Linked DNA regions of Homo sapiens: region 1 is linked to region 2. A link means that fine-mapping ties the variant in region 2 to the plasma level of a protein whose gene starts in the linked region. Region 2 holds a variant in brackets. A gene starts in the other region. All regions are shown on their forward strands.

What was found. A credible set is the group of variants that fine-mapping cannot tell apart. PIP is the chance, under the fine-mapping model, that this variant and not a neighbour inherited with it causes the effect. Protein levels are from antibody-based Olink assays in UK Biobank. Linkage for the fine-mapping came from a reference panel and not from the study's own genotypes, which makes the PIPs less certain.
Region 1: LCN2 starts here. The variant in region 2 is the best candidate, but not a certain one, in a credible set for the plasma level of the LCN2 protein (UK Biobank, PIP 0.59).

The regions. Positions count from the first base shown.
Region 1 is chr9:128,145,187-128,153,186 of GRCh38, forward strand. It overlaps LCN2 (lipocalin 2), which reads left to right and starts at 4,267. Exons shown (of 7, transcript NM_005564.5): 1 at 4,267-4,477; 2 at 5,052-5,188; 3 at 6,452-6,531; 4 at 6,720-6,839; 5 at 6,997-7,098; 6 at 7,914-7,940. The coding sequence starts at 4,340. The coding sequence ends at 7,933. RefSeq lists an enhancer at 988-1,487 and a silencer at 5,617-5,666.
Region 2 is chr5:95,913,166-95,921,165 of GRCh38, forward strand. It overlaps ELL2 (elongation factor for RNA polymerase II 2), which reads right to left. Exons shown (of 12, transcript NM_012081.6): 3 at 6,259-6,380; 4 at 606-769. Among named protein-coding and RNA genes, the nearest start is that of ELL2, 45 kb to the right of the region's middle. The variant C/CT (reference allele first, on the strand shown) is at 4,589.

The DNA of each region.
Region 1 (8,000 bases), not on the chromosome of region 2:
GCCCTCTTGCCCGCATAGGAGTCCAGGCTCTGGAGTAAAAGGCAGAGCACCCATCTAAGCAGCATGCCTGGGCCAGGCACCAAGGGATGGAACCAGCAAGGGCCCTGGGCCTAGACCTCAAGCAGCAGGGCCCGCTTCCCCCTGTCTGGTGGACCCCAGGGGTTCACCAGAGGGAGGAATCCAGTGGGTGTACTTGGGGGAGGGTTGGGAGGGGATTTTCACAGGCGGGCAGGGTCCCTGTCAGGTAGAAGGGGCAGGAGGACCTCAAGGCCCCTTGGCGAGCCTTGGCATGAGAGAGGATGGGGGTTGGAAAACTGTTTCTGGAAACAGGAGACTCAGCCCAAGACCCTGGCAGGGCAAGCTCCTCACACTAAACAGCCCCTCCCGTTCCTGGGTGTTTGAGAGTCGGGTGCCCAGCCCGGACCTGCCGTGACCAAGGAGAGCTGATCTGCAGACACCAAGACTTCCTGCATCTGTGACTGGGCCTCCTGGGGGCATCTTGACTGTAGACTCCTTCCAGGTGTGGTACCTGGCTCCTAGAAGCCTAGCCAGTCACCTCCTGCCCAGCCTTCAAACACGTCAGAGGGTTAACCATTCATGGCCACGCTGAACACTACTCACAAGATCCGGAAACCAGAATGGGGAGTCAGACTGGATTCCTGAGATGTAAGGACCGCCAGGAAGCATCTTGCTGCCTTCATGCATGGATGAGACCTGGGCCTCTCCATGGGAGGACAGGCTGCTGCAGTCTCCAGGGAGCACCCACTCTTGGGCGTGGAGAGTGGGGACAGCTGCCTGCCAGAGACTGCGAGGGGAGGTCGGGAGCAGCCGGAGTACTTCTGGTCTCTGGCCACGGAAAACCCAGGCAGGGACCTGTCTTTAAGCTCCTGCTGTTGCTAAGCCGACCTGCACAGCAGGACTTGGGAGCCCAGCCCAGCTCCTCTCAGGAGGGGCTTGGCCCCATTGCTTCTGTGTGGCTCGTTGAGGGCTCACTAGAGGCACCTGCAGCTCCTTGAGAGAAAGCAGGCCCAGTCCAGGGGCCACGGTGGAAACCATAGGAGGGGCCGAGGGGAGGCAGGTGGGTGCCTGTCATGCCATGCACAGTGCCACACGTGTCGTGGAGATTGTCCCAAGAGCCCCGGGGTCCAGGGACTCCCCCAAGCGCTGAGCAGTGTGAACACTTGTGTACCCTCATTGGCTAGGGCCCAATGAATGGGGCCCAGTGGAAAGGGGGTGGGTGAGGAATGGGGCCCCAGTGTCCTGTTGACCCTGGAGCCCTTGGAGTCGGTCAAGTCTGAATGGGAGGTCTACACCACAGTCCTTACCCAACCTTCCTAGTGCTGAGTCCTGAAGCTTGTGTGGTGGGTCTATGTAGAGCTGACCCCCTCCCTGCAGCCCTGCTAGACTCTGAAGAGAGCCAAGGCCAGTGGGTAGGAGACAGGTCTGGAGCTGGTGCAGAGAGAGGAATGAGCCCTGCATGGGTTTGATCAGAAACTCAGCCTTGTGTAGGGACACCCTGGGGCCCGGTGCTGTCCATGCATGACCTCACAGAAGCGCAGAGCTGCCCTCTCTACAGAGGAGCGCCTGATTTGTGTGGGAGCTAGGCAGAGATCTGCATGCATGCGGAGGAGCCAGGCTTCAAGCCAGCCTGGGGGACCCCCAAGCGGGACTATCTCCCCTTCTGCACCTGGCTCTGGTGTCTTCCCACTGTGGACCCAGTGCCCTGCTCACCCACCACATTCATACCCTGGAGTCCTGGGTCCTCAGAGATCCATGACACTGCCTCACCCCCAACTTCAAATTCTCTGGGGCTCCACCCGCTGGTCTCAGCTACGTGAAGCAGTCACCGTAGACTAGAGGGTACTTTTTAGATTTAGGTCACTCTATCATCCAGGCTGGAGTGCAGTGGCACAATCATAGCTCACTGCAGCCTCGGCTTCCTGGGCCCAAGTGATCCTCCCACCTCAGCCTCCCCGAGGATACGTGGTTTTTTTTTTCTTTTTTCAGACAGGGTCTCACTCTGTCTCCCAGGCTGGAGTGCAGTGGTGCGATCTTGGCTCACTGCAGCCTCCGCCTCCCGGGTTCAAGCCATTCTCCTGCCTCAGCCTCCTGAGTAGTTGGGATCATAGGCATGCATCACCCCACCTGGCTAATTTTTGTATTTTTAGTAGAGACGGGGTTTTGCCATATTGGCCAGGCTAGTCCCTGAGGATACATTTTTTTTTTCCCCGAGATGGAGTCTCCCTCTGTCGCCCAGGCTGGAGTGCAATGGCGCAACCTTGGCTCACTGCAACCTCCGCCTCCCAGGTTCAAGCAATTCTTCTGCCTCAGCTTCCCGAGTAGTTGGGATTACAGGCATGCGCCACCATGCCCAACTAATCTTTGTATTTTTACTAGAGACAGGGTTTCACCATGTTGGTCAGGCTGGTCTTGAACACCTGACCTCAGGTTATCCACCCGCCTCAGTCTCCCAAAGTGCTGGAGTTACAGGCGAGAGCCACTGCGCCCAGCCGAGGATACCTTTTTTTTTTTTTTTTTAAGACAGAATATCGCTCTGTTCCAGGCTAAAGTGCAAAGGCGTGATCTCGGCTCACTGCAACCTCCGCCTCCCAGGTTCAAGCTGTTCTTCTGCCTCAGCCTCCCGAGTAGCTGGGATTACAGGCGCCTGCCACCATGCCCTGCTAATTTTTGTATTTTTAGTAGAGATGGGGTTTCACCGTGTTGGCCAGACTGGTCTCGAACTCCTGACCTCGTGATCCACCCGCCTCAGCCTCCCAAATGCTGGGATTACAGATGTGAGCCACCGCACCCGGCCTGGCAGAGGATACTTTTTAAGGTCAAAGACAGTAGCAGAGGTGGAGTTCCTGGGAACAGGGTCATGAGGGGAAGAGGGGGTTCGGAGGGAGCGAGTAGCCACTGGCTACCTCTAGAAAGGGAAGGCTTTGGTGCAACATCGTTCCCCTGCAGTTTTACTCATCTTTGCTTCCTGCCCTTTCATCATCCAATCGGGCAGGCAGGACAGGGCCTGAGGGGGCAGGGATCCAGTGGGTGCCTCTCTAGACTAACCCCAGCTCAGGACTCCCAGAGCCCCTTCCCTGAGGCCCTGCTGCCCCCAAGCCCAGATTGGGGATCCCAAGCAGCACGTAGGCAGAGCCAGTGAGGTCCCCGTTAGTCCCATTGAAAGCTCTAAAACCAGCGAACCCTCAGTCCAGCCTCAGGTCAGGCATCCAGGACGGCCTCAGCCCTCATGGGTGAGCCATCTCTGCGGACACTGCACAGGGCCTACGATCCATCGCTGCCTCCCGAGGATGCCAGCCAGGCCCCCGTTGAGATAACTGCTTCCCTGCTGGACAAGGCTGGGACCAGCCATCTCGGTGACAGTTCCAGAACCCCTGGCCTGGGCTGCTGGGTTCAATGGAAAAAGGCTGTGACTAGAGTCAGGGGGATGGTCTCAGTGACCTCAAGGATAAGGCCAGATCCTTGCACTGTCAGTGACCCAAAGCAACAGGTGTCCAGAGCAGCAGTGTGGCGCCTTCACGCCCCCACACATCAGCCCAACTCACCCAGGACAGGGACTGTAGCCTCAGCACTCAACCCATGTGCCCTGTGTGGGGTCTCTTCCCACTGCACTCACAGGAGAGGAAGGGTCCCTCAGGGGTCCACTGGGGTCCCCTCCTGCAAATGGGGCAAGGAGAGGGGCAAGGGGCTGTCTCAAGGCCCCTGGAGCACATGCAGGTCCTGGACTGGGGCTCCTGGGAGGGCCATGATTCTGGGCTCCATGAGTTCAGAGCAGACGCCTTGTTTTTCCTTGTCCACTGTCAGCCACCCCACCCTTCCCTGACCCTTAAAAGAACCAGGAAACAGCACATGATCTGTTGGAAGGAGGCATTCATTCTTTCCTTTCTGTGGGTGTGGGGAGGGGACCACAGGGCACATACCCCACCCTGGGATCCAGCTGAGCAGGGGGGTCAGAGATGACAGCTCTTCCGGCTCACAGGCCACCGGCCCACATACAGGGCAATCAGAAGAAAGAAACAGCACAAGGAAGGCACAGAGGGAGTCGTTGTCCCTGCCAGAGGTGCAGCACTCCGGGAATGTCCCTCACTCTCCCCGTCCCTCTGTCTTGCCCAATCCTGACCAGGTGCAGAAATCTTGCCAAGTGTTTCCGCAGGAGTTGCTGGCAATTGCCTCACATTCCTGGCCTTGGCAAAGAATGAATCAACCCACCCTAGATCCCATAAATAGGGCCACCCAGGTGAGCCTCTCACTCGCCACCTCCTCTTCCACCCCTGCCAGGCCCAGCAGCCACCACAGCGCCTGCTTCCTCGGCCCTGAAATCATGCCCCTAGGTCTCCTGTGGCTGGGCCTAGCCCTGTTGGGGGCTCTGCATGCCCAGGCCCAGGACTCCACCTCAGACCTGATCCCAGCCCCACCTCTGAGCAAGGTCCCTCTGCAGCAGAACTTCCAGGACAACCAAGTAAGGGGCCAAGAGGGGCACCTGCAGGCAGGGCCTGGGGAAGAGTGGGAGCAGAGGGGAGGAGAGGTGAAGAGACTCAGGAAGAGCGTTGGGCAGGACTCTAGGAGTCCAGGGTCCAGGTTTCAGCTCACTCTGTGCCACCAGGGTCCCCTGGTGGAAACCATGCCCCTTCCCCCCATCCCCACCCCCTCTCAGCCTGAACAGACTCCCCCAGGTCCACATCCCCTCTCCCATAACCCCCATTGTCCAAAGAAGGTGGGAGCACTTTTAGTCCCCCTGCACAGATGAGGAAACTGAGGCTCAGGAAGGCCCACCAGCCACATGCCTCCTCCAGTGAGGAGGTCACCCTCCTCCCTGCCAGACTCAGAACCGCCTCTTCCCCCAGGACTCCCTTCTGGACTGATGGCCTCCTGCTCCTGCCCCTTCACCAGTGCAGGCCCAGCCTGGGCCCTGCTGCCCAGCTAGAGGGGCTCATGGTTCCAAGCTGGGCGGCCCAGAGGTGCCACAGGGACAGAGCTGGAGGGGTGGCTCCTAGGGCCATTCCTGGGTTGTGCCTCTTATCAGTCCCTTGCAGTTCCAGGGGAAGTGGTATGTGGTAGGCCTGGCAGGGAATGCAATTCTCAGAGAAGACAAAGACCCGCAAAAGATGTATGCCACCATCTATGAGCTGAAAGAAGACAAGAGCTACAATGTCACCTCCGTCCTGTTTAGGTGAGGGCCGACATCTCCTGGGGGTGTGAGAGTCAGACTGACGTCACAGGCAAGGGATGGCCAAAGCTGAGGGATCCTGTCGTTCACCTCGCTGTTCTGCCCGGAATTCATCTGTGTTCATCCTTCCTCTGTTCCTTAGAGCAACGTTTATAGCACATTTCCATGCAGACACACAGACAGTGGTGGGGATGGACATGCACAGTCGTTAGAAAACAAGACGGAGAGAGGAGGGGTGCCTGGGAGCGGGAGGAGGGGACACTGGATCCAGCCTGGAACCCCACCCAGTGCCTTCATGGAAGGCTTCCAGGGAGGTGGCCTTAAAAGAGCCAACCTGCTTCAAAAGGAAATGTGGGGTGTTCCCGGCAGGGGCTGGAGTCAGAGAGAGCCCCCCCTTCAGGAAGGAGCAAGCCATCGCAGGGTCACCCTGAGCAGAGCTGCTGAGCAGCCTGGAGGGGCAGGTGGCCACGCTAGCACCTAGCACGGTCCTCAGGCCCCGCCCCAGCGGATCTGCTGCGGAGTGGCTTAGAGCAGGGCTCTTGGGCCGCAGGGTGGGGAGACTTGGTGGGGTGCAGCCTAGGGGGTCGGGAGACCAGCGAAAGTGAAGCGGGGCCGTCACAGGTGTGAGAGAACAGGCGCAGGGTGAAGAGGCAGGGAGCCAGGGATCAGCCGCCCCCAGTGGGTTTCTGACTCTGGCAGCTGAGTGGATTGGGATTGGGGCATTTGTGGAGCAAGGAGCAGAATACAGACAGGTTGGGGAGCTCAGCCCTGGGGTGCCAGGGGATGGGAAGTGGGAGGACTCAAGGATGGGGTCAGGTTTGACCCGAGAGCTAGGGGAACGGCTGGCATGGAGCAGACTGGAAGTACCGAGGTGGATCCCCGGGAGAGGGTATAGGAAGGGAAGCAGCAAGCTGAGTGCAGGGGAGAAATGCAGGGTTTCTGTGTGTTGGGTGGCGGGGGGGGTGAAAGCCACCCAGGGAGGCAGCCAAAGGAAAGAAGGACATCGGGTGCTGGAGGGTCTGAGTGGGGTCCAGGGGCCCCAGGCAGGCCAGGAGGGACAGCCTGGTGTCAGCTCAGGGAGAAGGCCCAGGCCCATCTCGGCTGGGTGGGGTAGGGCCCCTCCAGGTAGTGGGGGATGAGCTGTCACGGGTTGGGCCGGACTGAGAGCAACAGAACCCTGCTGCTGCCCTGGCCCCACCTTGTCCAGCACAGGAGGCCCAAGCCTGGGTTGTCTCCCCTCTCACCCACCCATCTCTCCCTCCCAAGGAAAAAGAAGTGTGACTACTGGATCAGGACTTTTGTTCCAGGTTGCCAGCCCGGCGAGTTCACGCTGGGCAACATTAAGAGTGAGTCTTGAGTGAGGTGGGGCACTGAGTTGGGGCTCCGGGGAGCTGGGTAGGGGCACAGACCTTCCTGCCCCTCCACACAGATGTGTTGTATGGGGAGAAGCCCACGTTGATGGGCTGGGGAGGGAGGGGACAGCTCCCTCCTCCCATCCAGGGCAGGGCTGACCCCTCACCGTCCACGCCTGCAGGTTACCCTGGATTAACGAGTTACCTCGTCCGAGTGGTGAGCACCAACTACAACCAGCATGCTATGGTGTTCTTCAAGAAAGTTTCTCAAAACAGGGAGTACTTCAAGATCACCCTCTACGGTGGGTCCTCTCCCATCCCCTCGGGGACTGGCTCCTGATCACACTTAGTGGGAGGGGAGGCCGGTCCCCCATGAGGAAGGGATCTGAGGCCTCATCTACTCATTCAACGATATTTATGTGGTGTCTGCCAGCCACTCACTGGCCATCTTGGTCACAGGGAGAACCAAGGAGCTGACTTCGGAACTAAAGGAGAACTTCATCCGCTTCTCCAAATCTCTGGGCCTCCCTGAAAACCACATCGTCTTCCCTGTCCCAATCGGTAATGGCCAGTCTGGATGAGGGGACGGGGACATGGGGACTGTTCAGGCAGGATGCTTCCCTACCAGGGATCAGGGAGAGGAGGGACTCCGTCCTCAGCTTCAGTCACTGGAGCAGTGGATGGTCCAGGAGCTCCTTGGAAGCCACTCTGGGCCCAGGAAGACTGTGCCCCACCCCAGGGTCTATGGGACTCCCAGGGACCCAGGCCGCAAGTGCTCTTTCCTGGCAGTTTAGCCCGGGTCTGCCCAGACAAGGATTTCAGGCCCAGGCCTGAGTATCCATTTCTCAGTCTCACTGGCCTGACACCTCTGGCCACCCTCCCAGGCCCCCTTGTTCTGGGCCATCTCCCCCGACCCTCCCAGGCCTCGTCACCCTGGGTTTTGCTGTCCTGGCTGTCCTCTCTCCCCTGGGGACTTGCTCACCACTGACTTGGGAGCTGTCCTTGACTCCAGGGAGCCTGGCTTGGGCAGGAGGCTCCAGCCAGGCCATTCAGAGAGCCACTGGCCTCCCCCAGGCTGAGAGACTGCCTGGACTGGTAAACAGGCAGGAGACCTGGGTGCCCGAGGAGCCTGGGAGCTGGGCCTCACTCAGGGCAGCCCCTCCCCAGGCCTTTCTCCCACATCCCCTGCCCTGCCATCCACCCCTCTGTTGCCCCATCTCTGAAAGGAACCCCCATATCTTCTGCAGCTGGGCCAGGTGGGGCAGGGGCTGCCCAGGGGCAGTGCAGAGGACCTGGCAGTCAGGGATCACACACACACACTCATACACGCACACACACACACAGCTGCCTGTTCTGACGGACTTTCTCCCTAACAGACCAGTGTATCGACGGCTGAGTGCACAGTGAGTGTGGCTGGGCGGCTGCGAGGGGGCTTGTGGGAGGCCAGGGTGCAGTGGGCTGGG
Region 2 (8,000 bases):
TGGGGGTCGGATAGGGTCTTAATTAATGGATAGATGAGGATGAGGATCACAACTGAGGAACCAAAGAGACATCAGTCTAATGCTCTGTTGTAATGCTTTGCTATAAGCACATTTTATATTTTTGTAATGAAAAATCCTTGTTGTACAAAGATGCTCTGAAAATGTAAGCAAAATCTACAACAATGAGATTATCAACCCATAAATTCTACTAATAGATTTTACTATAAAAATAGCCCTACAAAAAGGCAAAACAAGAACCATAGTATCCATCACTGAAATTACATCATCTAGTGACAAAGAAAACACAACGGTACCACGATTGCAACTTCACGCAGTAATGTGACCAGATCCCAGTACTATAAAATAATAGTAAGTAGCCAACGAAGATTCAGGATTTAGGAAAGTCATAGAACTTTAAAATATGCTCTTCAATTTACTGGCAGTCTGAAGAGAACAAATAACTTTGTTTTTCTCACCATGTTATCCAAAATGTTCTGAAAACTAGTTTCTGTGTTTTCATTAAGTTAATATTACTGGTATTTACCTATGGTGATCTTGAATTACTCCAATCAATCAGCAAGAGGAAGAAAGATATCTATACAAACCTACATATGGTCCACCGGGTTTGATAACTTTTGTGCTTCGGTTGCGGGATTCCTCCTCTGCCTGGGTCATTCTTTCTCGTGTCATCTGATACGAGTCGTTTGTTGCACACACTGTAATTTTATCTTGTATAAATCCCAGGCAATTGAGCTGGGAGGCTCCAGAGCTGTCAAGTAAGTCAGTGGCTTTGTTAGACATGACCTTCATTTTGTACAATAAAGGCAAACAAGAATTATATAATCCTAAAATCAGCAGCCCAACTAAGTTTGCAATCCTAAAATAACTAATATTAATTTTTAAATGTAAATGCTATTTAAAATATCTAAGATCCTTCTCTTCACTTTTTTTCATATTCTTTATATAATGGATGAAGTGAGCTCTCAGAGACCAAATCCATAAAATTTTGAAAAAGAAAAAAAATCAGTATTTAGAGTGAGACCAGAGTTCTGATGGGCATTGTAGTTGTTTTATTTAACTGTTAACTATTTTAAAGAATTATCTAACACTGATATGAGGAAAGTTAAAAAGTTTAGTTTTAGTAAAACCACAATATACATGGTCTGGACTGACTAGTTGAAACGGACTCACCACACATTCTTTTTTATTTTAAATAATATATTAATTTTAAGGCTAACATACTGACAAAAATTAAAGCTTACTTTAATATTATTAGTCCAAAAAGTTCCTAAAAATTTGCAGAATTTGTATTTACTTTGTTAAATCTCTATATAAGATGACCTACTTATTAGCAAATGTTGAAGAAAACACAGGGCAAATGATTTTTATAGCAATTTTTTTTTAAAGGCCAGGCACGGTGGCTCATCCCTGTAATCCCAACACTTTGGGAGGCCAAGGCAGGTGGATTGCTTGAGTTCAGGAGTTTGAGACCAGCCTGGGCAACATGGAGAAACCCCATCTCTACAAAAATTAGCTGGGCATGGTGGCGTGTGCCTGAAGTTCCAGCTAGTCAGGAGACTGAAGTGGGAGGGTCTCTTGAGCCCAGGATGTGAAGGTTGCAGTAAGCTGAGATGGCGCCACTGCACTCCAGCCTGGGCAACAGAATGAGACCCCATCTCAAAAAAACAAAACAGAACAAAACACTTTTTATTGAAATAATCATGAATATTAACATGGACCTAGAAGATGGCTCTGTTTCAAAGTAACATGTTAATATTAGGGGGATCATGGTCACAGTCATAACTGGTATTTTATAAAGAAATTGCTATGGCCTGAAAACAAACTGGAATATAAAACTAATGAAAGTGACACTACAGCTCTGATCATCTATATCCAAACTTAATTAGAAGTAACTTTGTTATAATACAAAGAAATAAAGGTTGATAATTTTTTTTTGAGATGGAGTCTCGCTCTGTTGCCAGGCTGGAGTGCAGTGGTGCAATCTTGGCTCACTGCAAGCTCTGCCTCCCGGGTTCAAGTGATTCTCCTGCCTCAGCCTCCCAAGTAGCTGGGACTACAGGCACATGCCACCATGCCCAGCTAATTTTTGTATTTTTAGTAGAGACAGGGTTTCACCATGTTGGCCAGGATGGTCTTGATCTCTTGACCTCATGAACACTCGCCTTGGCCTCCCAAAGTGCTGGGATTACAGGCGTGAGCCACCGCACCTGGCTGATAAAATCTTTATAAATTGCTAATAACTGTCTTTACAAATGCTATTTAAGAAAAACACACACACAAAAACCAGTTAATTCATCTCATAAATATTTATTGGGCAGGGACTGCATGCCTAGCAATGTGTGAAGCAGAGAGGTTGTGACAAGAACTAACAGTTGTGGTCCCTCTTTCAAGGAACTAATGGGTGACAAGGATGGACAAACTGGAAATCATAACACAGTGTGACAAATTCCAGGGAGCAGAGGACTCCCAGAAAGGTAATCTCACCTGGACTTCCCAGAGGAGGTGATGCCTGAGGTGATCTAGAAAGATGACTGGGCAAGGGGGAAGAAGAATGAAAGTGTTCAGGGAGGACAACTAATCTGTGCAGGGCCAGGAAGAGCAAAAAGAAGGTTTTCAAATTGTCCAAAGAAAGTTGGGAAGGACAATTACAGCTGAAGCTGAAGAGGGAATGAGAAATACATCACAAAGGGCTCTGAGGGTCATGTGTTACAGGTTTTGGACCTTATCCAAAGGATAACGAGAGGCTGAAATCAGGGGAGAGAAAATAACTCATTTGTATTGCAGAAAGCTCAATCTGGATGGAGGATAGATTGAGAGGAAGGGGGACACCAGAAGGAAAGAAAAGAGGCCACTTAGGATGCTACTGAAGGATTACAGGCAAGCAGTGATGGCATGAACCAGAGTAGGGCAGTGAGAGTGTAGAATAGTACACAGCTTCCAGAGATAGTGAGGAAGTGGAACTGACAAAACGTGGTCAGTAGTTAGCCACACTCAGAGAGAGGTGGGGGAAAAAAGTTAAAGATCATGCCCAGGTCACGAGGTATATGGAAGCTGCTATGTACTGAAACACTGAACACAAGATGAAGGACAGGTTGGGAGACAGGACTGGGACAAAGAACATAAGTTCAGTGTTGGAGATGGTGACCTTGAAGGAATGAGGAGAGAAGGGGTCTCAGGAGGGAACCAACTGTGAAGAACACTAGTATTTAAGCAAAAGGAAGAAAAGAAGACCACATGAGACTGAAAAGCCACAGCTACAGAGGTAGGAAGGAAACCAGAAGAGTACTGTGTAATGTAAGCCACTGGAACAGACGCTTCAAGCAGGAGAGAGTGGTCAACAGTGTGCAACACTGGCAACAAGTCCAGAATAATAAGGAACCAATAACACATCCACTGGATTTTGGGGGCAGGGAGGTCACAGCTCCCTTGGGGAAGCAGTTTCAGTGGAATGGTGGGCACTGAAGCCAGACTTTGGGTTGAGAAGTGAATGTAAGAGAGGTTGTTTTTGTTTTTTATTTTCTTTTTTAATAAGACAGACTTGAGCATGTTTGCATGCCAAAGGAAAAAAAAAAAACCCACTGACAGAGGAATGCTGAGAGAGGGGAAGGTAATCCTCAGAGGAAGTGGGAGAGAGGGGGGAGAGTGGGAGAAAATGACTGCAATAGAGTGAAGGTCTGGTGGCAGAAAGTTTGTATTTCAACATCTCTTCCTATTATTTACTAAGTAATTTACATAGTGAGAATAAGCTGAACATACTGCCCCTCATGCGAAGTCAGAAAACAGATCTTTATGCAAAACAAACGGAGCTAAACGCTGTAGGCAAGAAGGTACTCTCTAGAATTCTTCACTCATCCCTTCTCAACCGAGTTACCCTGAAAGTTTAAATATTTTAGACAAATGTATATAAATGCTCCCTTAGTCTTTCTCTAGCCTAGCTCACCATTTCCTTCGCTTAAGTGTGCATTATTATACACTATAGGTCCTAGACTATATATTTTTCACTAAGTCTGAAAATGGGTAGACTTAAGGAATTTTTGAAAGGCAATTTTGACTGTGACATTGATTTCATTTTATATATGAGAAAAGTGAGAATCAAGGAAGTTTAAAAATATAGATAAGAAGACTAGTTAATTTGTATTTGTTGAACATTTATTTACTGAGCATCTGTTTTTACCCTTTTATCTCCAGGTTGAGTCAATAAGCATGTATTTTGAGCTCAGTCAGCACTGTGAAATTAGAAAAAGGGCATAAGAAAGCCTCTGACCTTGAAGAGCATGCACTGTGGTCAGAGAGAAAAGATCCATAAGGAAAATGGAAATTAAATTGAATGGAAAAGGTGAAGCCAGATTATGGACAGGTCAGCTTGCCAGGCTGTGAAGTGAAAGCCTGAGAACAAAAGCTAGTGCTTTTGTTTTCCTAGTGGCAGACTTCAATTTATACCCTTACTACCTCATTTTATAAGGCACCTTGGATTATACAGAGGGGATACATTTGCCCCAATATTTTCACAATAAGTGTTTCTATTCTCTTACTGCATCATACATAGTTTTGTAAGTGACCTTAAATC[C/CT]TTTCCAAACAAGGAAGGTAGAAATAACCACACAGGGTATTTATAATGTAAGAGTAAAGCCATATTACTTACAATGATATGAATGCTTTTGAAGAGAGGATTAAGCTCCTTAATAAAATTCCTAAGGGGACATTGTTCAATTTGATATCAAAATGTGCTCACTATAATAAAACAACAATCTAGAGACAAGCACCACAATTAAAAATTAGTGTACCATGTTGTGTGTAAAGAATACTGGGGTGGGAATTAGAAGAACTCAGTTCTCATTTAGCCTAGCCACTAACTAACCAGCTACATAACTCTGGATAAATCACCTGTGAAATGAAGGGATTGACTCACACAATCACTAAGGACCCTAATACTTGGTGATTCTATAATCTATCATAGTGCTGATCAATAGAACATTTTGCAAGAGTGAAAATGTTATATAACTGTGCTGTCTACTATGATAGTAACAGGTAGCTACTGAGACCACAAAATGTGGTTAGTGTGAATGTGCAATGATGTTTTAAATTTTATTTAATTTTTTATCAGTTGAAATGTAAATAGCCAATGTGGCCAGTGGCCATCACAGTGGACAGCACAGAAAAGTCTATATAATCTACAATATAGCAATTTATGCCAAAACATTTAAGTTTGAAGGTGGGTAATTTTCAGAAAGCAACATGAATATATCCTTGGGGAAAATGACAGATTAAATAACAAAAAGTTACGTAGACACCTTAAATGGGAGGATAAAGGTAAAACTCTGTCAGTGTCTTATTTTGTATCTCTGCCTCCTGTACCTGCTGGAAACACAACTTTGCTTCTTCTTTTCCCCCACATTGAGCAAGTACTTACATAGTTTCAAGTACTGCACAGATAAGTCACAGAGATACGCTGGTCTAGGGTACTTGGGGCTAATGTCAAAGCCTTACATGAGGAGGAAATGAGAGAGACCCTAACCTCCCTTGTCTATATCCAGGGGCAGAACAAACTCCTGCTCAAGGGCCTATTCTTTAATCAGAAACAACCAAAGCAATGAAGAGTGAAACAAGTGGCTTATTGTTTACAGAGGATCTAAGTAGATAAGCGTCCCATGGTACCCTAGGGTGTGGGTGTGTATATTCTTGTCTTCCTCCTCCTTTTTTTTTTTTTCTTTTTTTTTAAGAAGAAGGAGAGACTGCTTTACTGGGTTAATTTCTAGTTTCCATGCAGCTGTAGAATAAAGATGTTTAAAAATCTACCTTCTACCTTAGAACATGGCTTGAACAGGGAAGAAGGAAGAAAGCATGCAAGATGGATATTTTTAACTTCTTTACCCTGGAGTATGAGCCTCAAATATGCTATAAGATTCTTGCTTAAATTCAATGAATTAAATATTTCTAAAAAAAATCCTCAAATTGCCTTTAGTTTTCAAAAACTGCATTTTTATAGGTTAAAAAATATCTTCTGTACCTTAAAAGCCCCATTAGACCAAAAATCTTTGAACTGTTGTGATTATATCCCCATTACAAATGAAATTTCTATTACACAGTAGGTGCTTAATATTTTTCAGATAAATAAATGAGCTCTGTAATTCAATTTAATACACGTTTATGGATGAATATTATGTATTGTATTGTTTAATTTTCTAAAACCCTCTTAAATAAAAAATTTTTCCCCTTCAGTGTACCTTGAAAAGTACTTACCTGGAGAATGTTTGCTGGATGCAGTCAAAGCTGCCCTGAGGGTTGTCTTTGCCCACATTTGACAAATAAAAGTTAAAGTTATGAACTTCATTGAGGGGATCATTTTTGGGAATTTTGACAAGCTAAAATGAGGGGAAAAGAGAGAAACGCCTCAAATTATAAATTTGCCATAGAAAAGTCTTAAGACTGACTTACTGGTTTTTCTAGTGAAAATCATTTTAGACCTAAGCCCTTTTGATATATACATCCTCGCAGCATTTAAATGACCAAACAATTCAAGGAATCTGGCAAACATGCCTATAACTTACCAGATTCTTATTTCCATTTTCTACCTTTAAGTGTCAGTAATCACTTCTGCTCAATAGTTTCTATTAGTTTATAAGAGGAACCCTTTTCATTTCAAAGTAGCAAATGGTTACAGTTCTTATGAAAGAGTTATTAGTGAATTTGTAAAAAGCTCTTCCTCTTTTGAGCAATACAAGTTTTGTCTTTGGCTTACATGACCCCCTTCTAAATAGCTTCTATATATTGAAGCAATCTCTGAGATAAGAGTCCATATCCGAATCTTTGGCTCTTATAATAAAAAAACACATTTCATTTTAATTCTTGCTTCTTAGAGCAGTATTTTTGAACTTCTTAGAGTAACAGCATAAGGTTAATGCCATAATTGCATTCACAGGTAAAAACTGCTGTCCTAAGATGCCATTATACATCCTCATGTTTACAGAAACAGGGTCTGCAGCCTACAGAGATGATTCTGTAGGTCACTCCTAGGCTAAGCCCCAGGAAACACTGTGGAACAGGAAGATGTATTTTCTTTGTTGTTGTTGTTATTTTTATTTTTAAATTTTTAATATTTATTTATTTATTTATTTATTTATTTATTTATTTATTTATTTATTTTTGAGACGGAGTCTCGCTCTGTTGCCCAGGCTGGACTGCAGTGGCGCGATCTTGGCTCACTGCAACCTCCACCTCCCCGGTTCAAGCAATTCTCTGCCTCAGCCTCCTGAGTAGCTGGGATTATAGGTGCCCGCCACTACGCCCAGCTAATTTTTTTGTATTTTTAGTAGAGACGGGGTTTCACCACAGGCAGATGTATTTTCTACACTCTTGTTCAAGGGCTGGCTTCCCTACTAGATGAGAAGTCCCAGGAGCAAAGGGACAGAGTTGTTAAAGACCACTGAGGTCCTGCATTGGCCACATTGCCTGATATGTAGTAGGGGCTCAAAAAAGGTGTGTGCAATTGGAATCTTCTGTCCTTCAACTGCTCCACTCTTCCTAGTGTCTGAAACCTTTCCTCCCTTGGGTCTGCATGGTGTTAGGTGATAATTAAAAAAAAGGATTAGTTGGCAAGAATGTAAAATATGACTTAACCGAACTTCAGCTCCCAAACATACAGTCTTAGTAATTTAGCAGACAAGTAGGGAAGGGAAAAGTGTTTTATAATCCTCATTCTCCAAAAAATCTGTCCTTTCCATTATAAGATGAAGACAGCACTAACTTGCTGCTTAGCGTGTATGCACTCACACTCATGAATGGGCACAGGCATGGGCAAAGGCATGTATGATTCCTGCCTTTGCTCTGCCCTGCAAGATAACCTGCAACCACTGAATTGCTCAATCTAAAAGTCTCCCAAACCTTGACCTATAGGAAAGAACTGCAGTCACCAATTCCTGCCTTCCCTTCCTCCCAACCCTGGAAAAAGGTAAAAAGAAAAAAAGGTAAGAAGGGAGACAATT